2 separate regions of the Homo sapiens genome follow, and region 2 is linked to region 1. Evidence: fine-mapped expression QTL. A gene starts in region 1. The other region holds a variant in brackets. All regions are shown on one strand. Distances are between the middles of the regions. Region 1 holds the start of XRCC1 (X-ray repair cross complementing 1). Region 2 overlaps CADM4 (cell adhesion molecule 4).

What was found. PIP is the estimated chance that this variant, and not a neighbour inherited with it, causes the effect.
Region 2: its variant is the best candidate, but not a certain one, in a credible set for the expression of XRCC1 in whole blood (TOPMed, PIP 0.76).

Annotation. Positions count from the first base shown.
Region 1 is chr19:43,573,416-43,578,931 of GRCh38, forward strand. XRCC1 (X-ray repair cross complementing 1) reads right to left here and starts at 2,112. Exons shown (of 17, transcript NM_006297.3): 1 at 1,993-2,112; 2 at 1,495-1,587. The coding sequence starts at 2,043. PINLYP (phospholipase A2 inhibitor and LY6/PLAUR domain containing) reads left to right here and starts at 2,386. Exons shown (of 6, transcript NM_001193621.3): 1 at 2,386-3,504; 2 at 3,700-3,846; 3 at 5,175-5,291. The coding sequence starts at 3,777. RefSeq lists a silencer at 2,066-2,225 and enhancers at 2,326-2,485, 2,486-3,012, 3,013-3,538.
Region 2 is chr19:43,628,095-43,633,094 of GRCh38, forward strand. All of the region lies in intron 1 of CADM4 (cell adhesion molecule 4), which reads right to left. LOC105372411 (a long non-coding RNA gene) reads left to right here. Exons shown (of 4, transcript XR_001753942.2): 2 at 690-893; 3 at 3,414-4,330. Among named protein-coding and RNA genes, the nearest start is that of CADM4, 9.3 kb to the right of the region's middle. The variant C/A (reference allele first, on the strand shown) is at 2,342.

The sequences.
Region 1 (5,516 bases):
GTAAATCATATGGTCAAACTCATCAATGGAGCAGGGAAATATACTCCCCCTCCAGTGGGAGGGAGAGGAGTGGATATTTGCTGAATGACTGCCCATTCACAAAAGGTTAATTTTTCCGTCACCCTAGCACTATCCACAGAGTGTTCTGCTCCTTATAGTCATAAAGCAGCCCCCAGGCCAGGAACAATGGTTCATGCCTGTCATCCGAGCACTTTGGGAGGCTGAAGCAGGAGGAACGCTTGAGCCCAGGAGTTTGAGACCAGCCTGGCAACATGGTGGAAACCCCATCTCTAAAAAAATACAAAAAAAACTAGCCAGGCATGGTGGTGCACACCTGCAGTCCCAGCTACTCAGGAGGCTGAGGTGGGAGGATCGCTTGAGCCCAGGAGGTAGAGGCTGCAGTGAGCCAAGCCAAGATCATGCCACTGCACTACAGCCTGGGAACAGAGTGAGACTCTGTCTCAACAGATAAATAAAAGATTGACTGTCAGGCAAATTGTATAACTTCTTTGGGCCTCAGTTTCCTCATCTGTAAAAGTGGGGATAACAGAGCCTGCCTCTTGGGGTTTTTTATGAGGACTCAATGAGCTAATCCATGTGAGTGAGGTGTGTAGAGCAGCGACTGACAGGTAACGTTGAATAATGCCAGCTCTCATTATTATTATTTTATTTTTTATATTTTGGGGGTCTCACTCTGGTGCCCAGGCTGGAGTGCAGTGGCACAATCTCAGCTCACTGCAGCCTCCATCTCCTGGGCTCAAGCAATTCTCTCACCTCAGACTCGCCAGTAGCTGGGATTGCAGGTGCACACCACCATACTCAGCTAATCTATAAAATTTTGGTAGAGATGACATCTTACTGTATTGCCCAGGCTGGTCTCAAACTCCTGGGCTCATGCAATACTCCAGCTTCGGCCTCCCAAAGTGATGGGATTACAGGTGTGAACCACCATACCTGGCTATTATTCTTTAAAAAAAATTATTTATTTTAATAAAAATAGAGACAGGGTCTTGATATGTTGCCCAGGCTGGTCTGGAACTCCTGAGCTCAAGCAATCCTCCCATCTCAGGCTCTGAAAGTGCTGGGTTTACAGGCATGAGCCACGGCATCCGGCCAGTTTCCCCTTCTTTAAAGTGGAGTTGATTGGCTTAGACGACCTTCCTGGACACCTTCCAGCCCTGAGCCCACTGGCTGCAGGAGGCAGAGTACGTGGCAATGATTCATTTTGTTCCAGCTGAGGAAACTGGAACCCAGAAAGTAGATGCCACCTGCCCAGGACCACACACTGATTCCTGTGGTCATCCTGGACTTAATCCTTGGGTCTCCTTTCCTCTCTGCTGAGGGGCACAGGGATTATGCTGCCCATTTTCCGAGTAAGGAAGCTGAGGCCCAGCAAAGAAAGTGACTAAACCCACTGCCAGTTGGCTCAGGAGCAGAATCTGGAACCCCGGACTCCAGACTCCTAGTGAGGAGGAGGTGGGGTGGCAGGATCACCTGTAGGACCACAGAGATGGTCTTCTCGCCTGCCTTGGCTGCCCGCCATTTTCGGTAAGTGTCTGCCTTGAGAAGATTTTCTGCACAGTGAGTCTGGAAACAACAGTGGGAGAGGAGAATTAGGGCACAGAGATGACAGCTAGGCCTCCAGCTCTCAGATGATTCCTTTGAGTCCTCCCAAGGCCTCTACGACCCCCAGATTTAAGCTCTCCCGTTAATCCCCCGACACTCTGCCTGGAGTTTCCCCTACAACACTTTCCCGTGGAAGTTCACCTATGGGCTCTCCAAGAAAGCTTCCCTATTCCTCCTTTTCTCTCCGGAAGTTCCCTAGACGCCGGAACGTCCCTAATTCAACATCTCTCCACAATTCACTTTTAGCCTCCTGGAAATCCCCCCATGACTCTCCTTAGACTTCCAAGAGAACCCCAAAAGCTCTTTTAAGAGCTATCCTCATTAATTCCCTCACGTCTTCCAACCTCCCCCATGCAGGTCCCTCACCGAGTCCTGGCTGCTGCAGGACACGACATGGCGGAGGCGGATCTCCGGCATGTCAACGTCGTGGGCTTCGCCTGGCCAGAAGGATGAGGTAGAGTATGGGGTCCGAGGGGCAGGGAGAGTGGGAGGGGGCGGGGTGCGCCCTGCGCTGGCTAAAGTGCGCAAGCGCGCGAGGCTCGGGCCTTTCAAACCCCGGCGCGCCGGCGCCGGCGTCGACACTGCGCAAGCCCAGTCGCGCCTCTCCAGAGCGGGAAGAGCGCTGCGTTCCTTAGCAACGAGCGTTTCCTCCAGCCCCGCCTCCCTCCGCCACACACAACCCCGCTCTAGCCTCGCCTCCCAATGACGTCCGAACCCTGCTTTCTGGGAGCCTAGCAACAGAAGCGACCTCCGGGATTGGTGTCTGGAAGAAATTCGCCTTTCTCATTGCACGATGGAGTTACCGCCCACACTGAAGCCGAGAAAGCAAATCTTTTTGCTGTATTATTATTTATTTTATTTTTTAAAAATTTTTTGTTGAGACAGGGTCTTGCTCTCTCACCCAGGATGGAGTGCAGTGGCACGATCTCGGCTTTCTGCAACCCCTGTCTCCTGGGGCCAAGGGATCCTCCCACTTCAGCCTCCTAAGTAGCTGGGATTACACGCACGCGCCACCACATTCGGCTAATTTTTGTATTTTTTGTGGAGACATGGGGTGAGAGGGCGGCGGGTCTTGCCATGTTGCCCAGACTGGTCTCGAACTCCTCAGCTCAAGCGATCCACCTGCCTCGGCCTCTCAAAGTGCTGGAACTACAGGCGTGAGCGACTGCGCTGGGCTAGGACAGCAAATCTGAGTGAATTTTCGTAGTTTCGTAGGGAACCTGGATTCTACGCAACAGGATCTCTTCAAATGGCTCAGGCGGCTGCACTCTTCTCTCTGTCCCCTTGCCACACACACACACACGCACATATACATACATACGCGCGCGCGCACGCGCGAAAAAAATTAGCAGATCTCTTTCAGCCTTATGCCTGAGGCCAAAAGAGAAGGGTTCTGCGTCCTAAATATAACACAAAGCATGTGCCCAACCCCCACCACACACACACACACACACCCCTATCCTGGAGTTCTTCCACAAAAGCCTCAGTTTCCCAATATGTGGACTGTGGGCATCTGTCTTTTACTACGCCCGCCTATGACTGCCGACAGACATCCCTCTGTTCATTCGGTGCCTTGGAGACCCAAGGGTGCAGCCCTGGGTGGGGTCGCAGCTGGAGACAGCCCAAACACACAAGGAGTGTGAGCCGAGCACATGAAGAGAGGGGAAGGGAGACAAGGCACCCCGCACCCGCAGGACCAGCCTGGACATGCTGGGTGCTCCAAGGTGGGGCCCTACCCACACTGGGTGCTTCCTTGGGAGGAGAGGGGAAGAGAGAGAAGGAGAGGGAATCCCAGTTCTTGCAGCCACTGGGAATCAAGAGGCCCAACTCCGTCTTGGTCTTCAAGCAAACAAACAAACAACAATGGGCCGTGGGAAGGTGAGAAAACAGGGTGGTGACTTTCTGGGTTCTAATAGAAGAGGGGGATGGAAGCCCAGACTCCTGGGGTCTCCATGGAGGTGGGGGGCTGGGCACAAGATGCCCAGGTCACTTTTGGATTCTGGTTCTGCCTTCCCAACCCGGAGGCCACAGAGGACTGCCCTGGGTTCTGACCTCAGCTATTTCTCCCCGTAGGGTGAATGTGGGTCCAGACCCACCCCTCCTCAGCTTCCTATAAAAGCTGGGGACCAGGTACTGCTGATACACACACCATGAGGCTCTCCAGGAGACCAGAGACCTTTCTGCTGGCCTTTGTGTTGCTCTGCACCCTCCTGGGTCTTGGTAAGTGACAAGGGACCTGAACTGTCTCTGGGACCTCAGGAAGAGAGAGGTCCCAGATTGAGAGAGAGAGAGATATAGAGAGAGAAAGAGCCTTCAGCAAGTCCTCAAGGTGAACGGGGAGGCATTCTGGAAATTCAGATTCATGGAAGAGGCCAAGGGTAAAGGAAGAGAAAGCCTGGGGGTCCCAGAGAAGAAAAGCTCCTGTGATTGGATCCCTGAGAGAGGGGCTTGGTGGGCTCTGAATCCTCCATCCTCCAGGAAGGATCCCAAACACATCTCAATTCTAGGAAATCAGATGAGAGCATGGCTGGAAAGGGAAATCTTTAAAAATATAATTAAAAAAAAAAAAAGAGGGAGAAGGCCAGGTGCGGTGGCTCATGCCTGTAACCCCAGCACTTTAAGAGGCCGAGGCAGGTGGATCACTTGAGGTCAGGAGTTCAAGACCAGCCTGGCCAACATGGTGAAACCCCGTCTTTACTAAAAATACAAAAAAAGTTAGCTGAGCTTGGTGGTGGGCGCCTGTAATCCTAGCTACTTGGGAGGCTGAGGTGAGAGGATTGCTTGAAACTGGGAGGCAAAGGTTGCAGTGAGCCAAGATCGTGCCACTGCACTCCCCAGCCTGGGTGACAGAGCAAAACTCCATCTCAAAAAAAATACATTAATATCATATGATATATTTTTTTAAAAGAGGTAGAGAGATTTCCTTTCTCCTTAGACTAAGAAGTTCAGGCCCCAGCCCCCTCCTCCCCTGCACACAGGAGTCCAAGTAAGCCTCACTTTCCCCAGGACCCAGGTTTCTGGGCCCCTAGCTGTCCCCTCTCTCAGAACCAAGAAGTTCAAGTCCTCTGCCCTCCTGGTCCTCACTCTCCCTCCTTGACCTGGGATGCAGACCCTAGCCTCAGGGCCCCCTGCCTGAGCTCCTGCTGTCTACAAGACCTACATGGCACCTTCAAGGAGGAGAATCCCACATTCAAGAACCAGCTGGACCTGAAGTTTCACAAAAGTCCATGGAAACCTCCATCACGACCCCTCCCTGCCCCTGAGCTTTCTCAGCGGACCCTGGCATCCAAAATCCCCAGCCATGTAATTAGGCAAACAGGCTTCATGGTGGAGTCGCTTCCCGCCCCTGGAAGCAGCTTTGCTGGCATCACCACTGCTTCTTCGTCCAACTCTGGACAGTTCCTTGGGCAGTGGTCAACATCCCGCCCATGAAAAACCAGGGAGCTGCTGGTCCCTCCTCTCTCAGGACACAAAAGTCCTAAGTCAAAGTCGTGGTCCGAAGACCACACCACCCATGACTACAGCCTCGCCCTCTGTCTACACTGCAGGGTGCCCACTACACTGCGAAATATGTACGGCGGCGGGGAGCAGGTGCCATGGCCAAATGAAGACCTGCAGCAGTGACAAGGACACATGTGTGCTCCTGGTCGGGAAGGCTACTTCAAGTAAGAGGATGTGGCCTGGGACCTGGTGGGGAGGTGGGGTGTACCTTCAGGGTGGAAGAGACTACCATGCTGAGGGGGGATCATCATGGTTCTCAAGACGGGAGCGTGGGAAGAAATCAGTGGAGAGCAGGAAAGAGGGAAAGACCATCATGAGATGGAGGGAACAGAAATAAGTGGTGTGATAGAAATCATTATTGTCACAGAATTCTGAAAATGACACTGTCC
Region 2 (5,000 bases), 54 kb after region 1:
GCTCTGCAAGAAAGCTCCATTGGATCTGGATCTTAAAGAGTAAGCAGGAGGCTGAGCGCGGTGGCTCATGCCTGTAATCCCAGCACTTTGAGAGGCCGAGGTGGGCGGATCGCAAGGTCAAGAGATAGAGACCATCCTGGCCAACATGGTGAAACCCTGTCACTACTAAAAATACAAAAAAAAAAAAAAAATTAGCTGGGTGTGGTGGTGCGCACCTGTAGTCCCAGCTACTCGGGAGGCTGAGGCAGGGGAATCGCTTGAACCCGGGAGTTGGAAGTTGCAGTGAGCCGAGATGGAGCCACTGCACTCCAGGCTGGGCGACAGAGCGAGACTCTGTCTCAAAAAAAAAAAGAAAGAAAAAAAAGAGTAAGCAGGAGTTCACAAGGTGTGGGAGACTGCTGTGTGTTCACCAAGCCTCATCTTTCACACCTGGGCACATGTTGTAGCCCGTTTGCAAAGATAGCCGTAATATTCTCCTGTCCCTGGACATGCCCTTTGCAAGTTGATTTTGCCATTCCTCCCATTGAGAAGGCACTTTGTCCCCTACTAGTCTGGGTAAGCCTTGAGAGTTGCTTTGACCAATAGAATTTGCTAGAAGTGATATTGAGCCTAGGCCTGAAGAGGCCTTGTAGCTTCCACTCCTGCCCTAAGACTGTTGCATGAAGATACCCAGACTAGTGTCTTTGCAGATGAACAATCATGGTGAAAGAGAAGCCCAGCCGGCAGCCAGCACCAATCGCCAGCTGTGTGAGTGTGGCCATCCTGGATCATCCAGCCCCAGCTGCCCCACCAGCTGACAGCAGCCACACAAGTGACCCCAGTTGAGACCAATAAAAGATCTGCCCATCTGATACAGCCCAAACTGCTGAACCCCAGAATCATGAACAAATAAGGTGGTGGTTGTTTTAAGCTCCTAAGTTGTGGGTGATCTGTTCTACTGCTAAAGTTAACTGATACAATACATAATTAGGCTATACTTCCCAGCATCCTTTATAGTTAGGTGGGGCCATGTGACCAATTCTGGCCAATGGGATGTAGGTGGAAGAGAAACACCTCTTGCAGCCTGACCCATCTCCCTCATAATCCTTCACACTGGCTGAACAGAGAGGACTCCAAGGAGCCTAGAGGAGGGCAGAATCACAAGCCAGAAGGAACCTGGGTCTCTAACTGACTGTCCCCCATGACCCGCCTGTATAGGACTGTGATATGAGCAAGAAATATACCTTTTTGTTAAGCCATTGAGATTTCAGGGGTGTCTGTTACAGCCTTTAACCTACCCTGATTAATCCATCAGAAAAACAAGGTGGGGAATCTAGAACCATCAGAGAAAAGCATTTAGGAAAGCTGAAAGCCAAGACTAATCATCAGCATTAATATCATCATCTGTTGTCTTCAAAATAACAATAACCCCCATAGCTACCAATTATTAGGTACTTGCAGTGTTAGTCCCTGTGCTAAGGGCATTACCCATATAACTTACCTTTAATCCTCACAATCCCTGTGTAAGGTAGACATGATTATTATCATTATTATTATTATTTTGGGACAGAGTATTGCTCTGTTGCCCAGGCTGGAGTGCAGTGGTGTGATCTCAGCTCATTGAAACCTCCACCTCCCAAGTTCAAGCGATTCTTCAGCCTCAGCCTCCCAAGTAGCTGGAATTACAGGCATGCACCACCATGCCGGGCTAATTTTTATTTTTAGTAGAGACAGAGTTTAGCCATATTGGCCTGGCTGGTCTCGAACTCCTGGCCTCAAGTGATCCGCCTGCCTCAGCCTCCCAAAGTCCAGGGATTACAGGTGCGACCCACCGCGCCTGGCCAATTATTATTATTATTTTTAATTTGAGACAAGGTCAGGCTGGAGTGCAGTGGCACGATCTCAGCTCACTGCAATGTCTGCCTCCCAGGCTCGAGTGATCCCACCTCAGCCTCCCCAGTAGCTGGAACTACAGGTGCACAACATCACACCTGGCTAACTTTTGTATTTTTTTAGAGACGGAGTTTCACCGTGTTGCCCAGGCTGGTCTTGAACTTGCGAGCTCAAGTGAACTGCCTGCTTCGGCCTCCCAAAGTGCTGGGATTACAGGCATGAGCCACTGTGCCCGGCCTGCGCTATTATTATCCCCATTTTGCCCGGCCTGCGCTACTATTATCCCCATTTTCCCCCATTTCCATTTTTCTTTTCTTTTTTTTTTTTTTTTTTTTTTGAGACATTGTCTTGCTCTGTCGCCCAGGCTAGAGTGCAGTGGTACGATCTCGGCTCACTGCAACCTCCACTTCCCGGGTTCAAGCAATTCTCCTGCCTCAGCCTCCCAAGTAGCTGGGATTATAGGCACCTG[C/A]CACTGCACTTGGCTAATCTTTGTGTTTTTAGTAAAGACGGGGTCTCACCATCTTGGCCAGGCTGGTCTGGAACTCCTGACCTCGTGATCCACCCGCCTCGGCCTCCCAAAGTGCTGGGATTACAGGCTTGAGCTATCGTGTCCTGCTCCCATTCCCATTTTATAGGTGAGAAAATTGGCCCACAGAGATGAAATGACTTGCCCAAGTTCACAGCCAAGAGTGGCAGTGCCAAAATCTTCGTCCAAATCTCTGATTCTGTATCCTGAATCTGTATATCCACTCCTGGCTGTCTGGATTAAGTGTCCATCATTGGCAGGGGGTTGTGAGAGCCGCTTGTGATGGGCCTCGAATGCCAACCTAGGAGATTTGCTTTCATCCTAAGGGCCAGTGAAGGTTTTGAAGCAGGAATATGCCATGATTAGATCTGGCTATTTGTCTTTAAGTGCTGGATAACTATCCATGTCTTTTACATTCAGGTGCTGGGTTGCATTCATTCAGGAGTATTTCCTGAGCATCACGTAGGTTTTCAGGGGCTGAGTAGTCAGAGATGAGTTAGATGAGGTCCCTGCCCTTTAAGATTTATGGGAAGGTAGGAACCAATCACGGTAATCAAAAGTGTTATGTGGCTGGGCACGGTGGCTCACACCTGTAATCCCAGCACTTTGGGAGGCCGAGGTGGGCGGATCACAAGGTCAGGAGTTCGAGACCAGCCTGACCAACATGGTGAAACCCCGTCTGTACTAAAAATACAAAAATTAGCCAGGTGTGGTGGTGGGTGCTTGTAATTCCAGCTACTCAGGAGGCTGAGGCATAAGAATCGCTTGAACCTGGGAGGCAGAGGTTGCAGTGAGCCAAGATCGCGCCACTGCAGTCCAGCCTGGGTGACAGAGCAAGACTCCGTTTCAAAAAAGAAAAAAAAAAAAGAAATAAATAAAAGAAAGTGTTATGTTTTCTGTAAGAGGGTAGGTAACCTAATTTGGAAGTTGAGGGGTAGAAAAGATTATTTCTGGGGGATGGAGACAGAGACTTCTGGCTTCCTATTCTGACATCCATTTTTCCCTTTCTCCTCAGTAAAAGAAAAGAACACTGGTTGTATTTTATGGTTGCACTATGTCCAGCAGAAAAAGGCATTCCTCAGTCTCCTTGCAGCAAGGTAAAGCCATCTGATAAAATTTTGTCCAGTTGGATATAAGCCAAAATGTTGCGTGACAATTTTGGGAGGACTTCCTGAAACAGGTGGACAAACCCTTTTTCTACTGAGTCACCTTTGTGCCACCTGGAACTAACAGTGTGACGCGTGGAATTTAGGCAGCCATATTGAACCATGAGGACAAGAGCAGTGGGGATGGCGGAACCAAGAGCTGGAAGGTGCCTGAGTCTCTGGTGAAGATGTGGAGCTGCTGTAACAGCCCTCAACTCCTAGTTCTGGACTTCTTTTATGTTTTAGTGTAACGCTTTGGGTATTTTTATTTTTTTAATTTATTTTAGAGATGAGGTCTCACTATGTTGCCTAGGCTGGACTCAAACTCTTATGCTCAAGCAGTCCTCCTGCCTCAGCTTCATGAGTAGCTGAAACTATAGCACTTTGGGTATTTCAGCCACTGTTTGAGGTTTTTCTAGCACCTCCTGGAATATCAAGCTTAACATGTCCAATCCTTGCCCCAGATATTTTCCTCCCCAAATTTTCTCAATCTCAATAAATGTCACCACCATCCACCTGGTTGCTCAGGTCAAAAACCTAGAAATCATTCAAGTTCTCTCCCTTTCCCTCATCCCCAATATCCATTCCATCAGCAACATCTGTCCATTCTACCTCCAAGACATATCCCAGATCTCATCACCTTTGTCTGCCTCTCCTACCCTCACTCTCATCCAGCATCATCCCTCACCTGGACTCTGCAAAAGCCTACTCGTGGGTCTGTCTGCATCCCTGTCTGCCTCCTCCAGGGCCATTCTCCACCCAGTGGCCGGATCGATTTTTCAAAGAGGTAAATCAGATCAATTCACCTTTCTGCTTAAAACCCTCCGAGGGCTGCCCGTAACATGTAGAATAAAATAGAGACCCCTTCCCGGGGACTTCAAGGTGCTATATGGCCTGGCCCCTTGCTGACCTTACTTCACTCTGGGCTCGCTAGCCTTGCTGTCCCTCAAACATGCTGAGCTCGCTCCCACCACAGGGCCTTTTCCCTTTTCTTCCTTCTGCCTGGAATGTTCTTCTCCCCACCTCCCAAGCCCCATCTTCCCAGGGCTGACTCCTGTTCCCATTTGGGTCTCAAATCATATCAGTACCTTCTCAGAGAGGCCTTCCCTCACTGCTCATCCCTTCACCTTTAGAACACTTTCTTTTCTTTTAAGAGACAAAGTCAGCCCAGTGCGGTGGCTCACGCCTGTAATACCAGCACTTTTGAGAGGCCAAGGCGGGCAGATCACCTCAGGTCAGGAGTTCAAGACCAGCCTGGCCAACGTGGCGAAACCCCGTCTCTACTAAAAAAATACAAAAATTAGCTAGGCAGTGGTAGCCCGGGCTACTCAGGAGGCTGAGGCAGAATTGCTTGAACCCAGGAGGCAGAGGTTGCAGTGAGCCGAGATTGAGCCACTGCACCCCAACCTGGGTGACAGAGAGAGACTCTGTCTCAAAAAAAAAAAAAAAAAAAAGAG